2 separate regions of the Homo sapiens genome follow, and region 1 is linked to region 2. The links come from fine-mapping of genetic effects on gene expression. A gene starts in region 2. The other region holds a variant in brackets. All regions are shown on one strand. Distances are between the middles of the regions. Region 1 has its middle 16 kb from the start of TCP11. Region 2 holds the start of ZNF76 (zinc finger protein 76).

Evidence for each region. PIP is the estimated chance that this variant, and not a neighbour inherited with it, causes the effect.
Region 1: its variant is the best candidate, but not a certain one, in a credible set for the expression of ZNF76 in subcutaneous fat (GTEx, PIP 0.57).

What each region holds. Positions count from the first base shown.
Region 1 is chr6:35,155,924-35,158,944 of GRCh38, forward strand. No RefSeq gene overlaps it. Among named protein-coding and RNA genes, the nearest start is that of TCP11, 16 kb to the left of the region's middle. The variant C/A (reference allele first, on the strand shown) is at 1,620.
Region 2 is chr6:35,258,303-35,260,802 of GRCh38, forward strand. ZNF76 (zinc finger protein 76) reads left to right here and starts at 1,433. Exons shown (of 14, transcript NM_003427.5): 1 at 1,433-1,539. SCUBE3-AS1 (SCUBE3 antisense RNA 1) reads right to left here and starts at 1,153. Exons shown (of 4, transcript XR_001744102.2): 1 at 988-1,153. RefSeq lists silencers at 1,416-1,535, 1,546-1,865.

The DNA of each region.
Region 1 (3,021 bases), 100 kb before region 2:
AATCTTCCTGCCTCAGCCTCCTGAGTAGCTGGGACTACAGGTATGTGCCACCACACCCAGCTAATTTTTAAATTTTTTGTAGTGACAGGGTCTAATCTTGTGGCCCAGTCTGGTGTTGAACTCCTGGGCTCAAAAGATCCTTCCATCTCAGCCTTCCAAGGTGTTGGGATTGCAGGTGTGAGCTACCGCGTCCAGCCTAACATTTTTTATAGTACAGTTTTGCCATTGATGATTTTTTTCAACTTTTGCACATCTAAAAAGGTCTCTATTATAGCTTCATTTTTGAAGATACTTCTGCTGATATAGGATTCAGATTGACAGATTTTTTTTTTCTTTCAGCATTTAAAATATCTTGCTGAACTGTTTTCTCACTTGCCCTGTTTCCAGTGGGAAATCTGCTGCTATCCTTATATTTGTGCCTTTATATGTAATATGTCTTTTTTTCTCTGGCTGCTTCTAAGATTTTCTCTTTATTATATATATTGAGCGATTTGATTATATGTGCATTGGTGTAATTTTCTTCAGATTTCTTTTGCTGGGGCTCATTGAGCTTCTTGGATTTGTGGGTTTATAGTTTTCATAAAATGTAGAAAATTTTTGAGCGTTACTTCTTCAAATATTTTTTCTGTACTCCCTGTTTTTCAGGGACTCCAATTACATGTATATGAGGCTGCTTGAAGTTGTCCTGTAGCTCACTGATGCTCTTTTTATTTTTTAAGCATCTTTTTTCTCTGTATGTTTAATTTGGAATAGCTTCTATTGTTATGTCTTTCTAATAACTAAAATTTTCCTCTGCTACATCTAGTCTGCTATCAACCTTAGCCAATGTAATTTTCGTCTTACTCATTGTAGTTTTCATGTTACTAATTGTAGTTTTCATCTCAAAAGTTCATTTTGCATCGTTTAAATATTATGCATGTTTTTGAACATATGGAATATAGCCATAATAACTGTTTTAACATACTCGTCTGTTAATTCTAACATCTTTGTCAGTTTTGGGTCAATTTTATTTTTTATTTTATTTTTATTTATTATTATTTTTTGAGACAGAGTCTCACTCTGTCCCCCAGGCTGGGGTACAGTGGCGCGATGTCGGCTCACTGCAACCTCCACCTCCTGAGTTCAAGCAATTCTCTTGCTTCAGCCTCCCTAGTAGCTGGGACTACAGGCATGTGCCACCACGCCCGGCTAATTTTTCGTAATTTTAGTAGAGACAGGGTTTTACCATGTTAGCCAGGATGGTCTCGATCTCCTGACCTCGTGATCTGCCCACTTCGGCCTCCCAAACTGCTGGGATTAGAGGCGTGAGCCACCGTGCCCAGCCAGTTCTGGGTCAATTTTAATTGATTGATCTTTCTTCTCATTATAGGTTATATTTTGCATGCCTGGTATTCTTTCATTAGATGCCTAATGTGAATTTTACCCGTTAAGTACAGGATATTTTGGTATTTCTATAATATTCTTGAGCTTTGTTATAGGATTGTTATAGGATTCGATTAGGTTACTTGGCAACAGTTTGATTCTTTTGGTCTTTCTTTTAAGAGTTACTAGGTGGGAGCTGGGTGCGGTGGCTCACACCTGTAATCTCAGCACTTTGGGAGGCCAAGGAGGGTGGATCA[C/A]AAGGTCAGGAGATTGAGACCATCCTGTCTAACACAGTGAAACCCCATCTCTACTAAAAATACAAAAAAATTAGCTGGGCATGGTGGTGGGCGCCTGTAGTCCCAGCTACTCGGGAGGCTGAGGCAGGAGAATGGCATGAACCCGGGAGGTGGAGGTTGCAGTGAGCCGAGATCGTGCCATTGCACTCCATCTCAAAAAAAAAAAAATAGTTATTAGGTGGGAGCCAGGCGAGTTGGATCATGCCTATAATCCCATCACTTTGAACATTTTGGGAGGATGAGGCGGGAGGATCACTGGAGCCCAGGATTTCAAGACTAGCCTGGGTAACATAGTGAGACTCCATCTCTATTTAAAAATATAAAAATCAGCCAGGCAAGGTGGTGTGGGCCTATAGTCTTAGCTACTCAGGAGCCTGAGGTGGGATGATTGCTTGAGCACAGGAGGTTGAGGCTGCAGTGAGCCAAGCTTGTGCCACTACACCCCAGCCTGGGTGACAGAGTGAGACCCTGTTTACAAAAAAATTAAAAAGCGTTATTAGGTGGGACCAAAGCAGTGTTTTGTGTTGGGGTAATTATTCCTCAATACCAAGGCAGTACCCTTTTGAGTAATTTACCCATGCCTCATGAATTATGAAGTTTTCCAGTCTGGCTGGTGGAAACACTCTTCCCACCTCTGTGTGAACACATAACATTGCTCTCTCGTCCTCTTAGAAGGTTCTCTCCCTAGCCTTGGGTAGTTTTCTCACCCTATGGGTCAATAATGCCAGATACTTGTGGGAGACCCTCTACACATCTCCAGGCCTCTGTGTAGCTCTCTCCTGTCTGGTATTCTGTCCTGAAAACTCTAGCTACCTTGGTATCCTTTTAGCTCTGTCTCTTCAACTCAGAATTGGCTGAGACGTGCCTGGTTTTCTCTCCCTCTACCACAGCCTGGAAGCCTTCATAAAGCAGTAAGCTGTAGGGCAGTTGTGGGGCTTACCTTGTTTTTCCATCTCTCAGTAAATGTCCTTTCTTGCCTGAAACAGTCTTGAAAACCAACTTACCTTCTTTCCTTCCTTCCCCCTTTCTTCCCATTCCCTCCCTCTCTTATCTCTCTCATTCTTTCCTTATCTCCCTCCCTCACTTCCTCCTTTCTTCCATCCTTCTTTGTTTCATTTCAGGAAGGAGAGGAAATCCAGTCACTGTTGCTCCATCTTGGCTGGGAGCAAAATTCCTTTCTGTTCAAATTCTTTCTTATCCTTTGTTACAACTGTAATAGTGCTGGGCACATGGTTGGTTCATTGATTGAATGCTGCTTGAGTGCATTCATCTTTTAAGTAATAATATCCAAGTAAAAATTTGTTTAGCAATTCAATTGTAGGGCCAGGTCCTGTGGCTCACGCCTGTAATCCCAGCACTTTGG
Region 2 (2,500 bases):
ACCAAAAAGGAATGGAAAGAGGGCAGCATAGTGGCCAGGCAGTTTATTTCCATACTAGGAGATACAGAAGGGATTAATTCTAACCGTAGGAATTCTAACCATCAAATGTCACTCACTGGCCTACCTAAACTGAACTCTGGTCCCAGCCAGAACAAGTCAGGAAGAGGGGATGTCTAAGACCGAAAGGGGGGCTTTCTAGTTAAGCTCTTCAGGCAGGAGAGGAAAAGGATGCCCGCATCCCCAAAGACACCTTTAGCTACCACAAGCCCCAAACCCCGTACTTTGTAACTGTGTCTAGTTTACGTCCTTTAAAAATTATTCTTATTAAGTTAAATTGTTTTCGGGGCGGGGAAGATACAAAAGAAACCAGTTAAAGTCTGAAAGGATAGAGAGGGGAAAGTTTCTCACCTCATTCTTCCAGCCACCCAGTTCCTCTCCTAAAAGGCAATCTTTACCAGTTCCTTCTCTAACGCCCCTCCTTTTTAATTTGATTTTTTACCGAAAGCTCGCTCCCTTTTAATTTTCCCTCAGGTTTCTGAAAATTTCCCAATCGCAGCCCCTCCCAGCAGGGAAATAGTAAAGGGGCTTGGTTTTTATGTTCAACCCAAAGCAAGCCTACAAAAGGGAGTAGTCGGTTTCGAGCCTGACGGTGGAGCTGACGCGGGAATGAGAGAGAACCTGAGAAGACCGCCAGGGCGCCCTCCCTGCGGAGGCGAGTCCCTCACCGCCCCTCTACATCGTCCTTTTCAATAAGGAGCTCTTAATACCTGCAACTGCTTCCTTCAAGGGGTGGCTGGAAGATCAGTAGGCAAGGCCTGCGGACTGCGCACCTTAAAGCGCTTCGGGACCGTAAGACAGTGAGTGCTGAGCGCGCGGCCGGGAAGAAGCCTGGAGGCTCTGAGCTCGGAGGACAGAGACCGAAGCCCCAGGGCCTGCGTCCCTCACAACCTGCGCCTCCTGTCCTCCCGCGCTACTCCCGAAGCGCACCTTCTCGCCCGCAGGCCGCAGAAGTGATGACGCAAAGCCCTCGGGGCCTCCGCCACCTCCTCACGCTTCTGCTGGACCGAATCCTTGGAATGGACAGGTAGCGGTTCCCGATTGCTATAGCGACGACCCGGCTCCGAGCCGCGCCCAGGCCCTGACCCGGGCGTCGTGACGTCAGCACGCCTTCCCTGGGCGCTCAGCCTCGCTGGCCATGCGTCACCCCGGCCTTGGTGGGGGCGGGGCTCCGAAGAGCTCGGTTCAGATCCCGGCCGCCTGGGCTCCAGGAGCCCCGGAACCAGGATAAGTTGGATGGCTGCCGCGGCGAAGCGGGGGGCGGGGTGGACCGTGCCCGGTATTTTCTATACGGGTTCCGGGGCCCGGTAGAGGCGCGCCAAGAGGAAAGGAAAGTGCGGCGGCCCTGGAACCTGGATATCGCGCGAGGCAAGCTGCGCGCGGGCGGGCGGGCTATGGCGCAGGCGGGTTGTGGGGCCGGCGCTGGTGGCGGGGCCCGGTGCATGGCGGTCTGTCGGCGGAGTCGCCCTCGGGGGCTGTCAGGTTGGTGGCTGCGGGAGGAGTGGGCCAACCATGCCCAGGGCGGGAGGCCGGGCGGGCGCAGGACCCCGGGAAGGTCCCGAGCCCGGCGTGCCCACCTCCCTCCGGCCCTAGCAGGGCGGCCTGGCCGCTGGACCGCGGCCGGGCCCCCTCCCCCACCCAGGGTCCCTGCCCCTCTTTTCCGCCTTGCGGCTCCTCCCCCGTGACTCCCAAACCTCACCCCGTGACGGCGCCCGCCTCCACCCTTGTGACCCCACACCCCACCCACTGACCCCAAGACCTCACCAGGTAACCGTTGGTTATTATTCATTGGCTGCTAACCCAGGAATTTCCCCAGCACTTCTCAGAGACCCACCAACCAGTGACTCCCTCAGTTTTAATCCGGTGACTCACATGACCCTGAGATCCCCACACTCCTCCTTAGTGACCCCCAAACCTGGGTAACCCTCCTGGCCCAGTAACCCCCCCGATTCTACCTTGTGTTCCCCACAAACTCGGTGACTCCCCTCAAAACTCTGCTGGCGACTCCTAAGCCCTACTCCAATAGTTTTCCACGCACTCACCTTGTACACAACCCTCAGTATCTTTATCCTGTAGCCGTATGACCCTCGTTCCACGTCTGCCTTTATCCTAAAATCACCCCCACTGGCATCTCTCTCTGCGATCCCAGCCCTTCAGTGTCAATCAGCACATGACTTACAAGCGTCCAGCACCTTTCTGGTGCTAAGGAGGATATAGAGATTAATATGAAGTAGTAATAATTGGAGGCATCAGAGAATTCTGGATCAATCCAGAATCCAGTCAATCCAGTGTGTGGTCCCAGCTCTGTCACTGCTGTGCTTTAGGGACCTGTGAGAAGTCCCCTCCTCAGTCTGGACCTCAGTTTCTCATCATGACTGTGATGAGGTTGGGTTAGATGATCTTTGAGTTTCCTTCCGTCTGTGAAATTGTGAAATTATGCAGT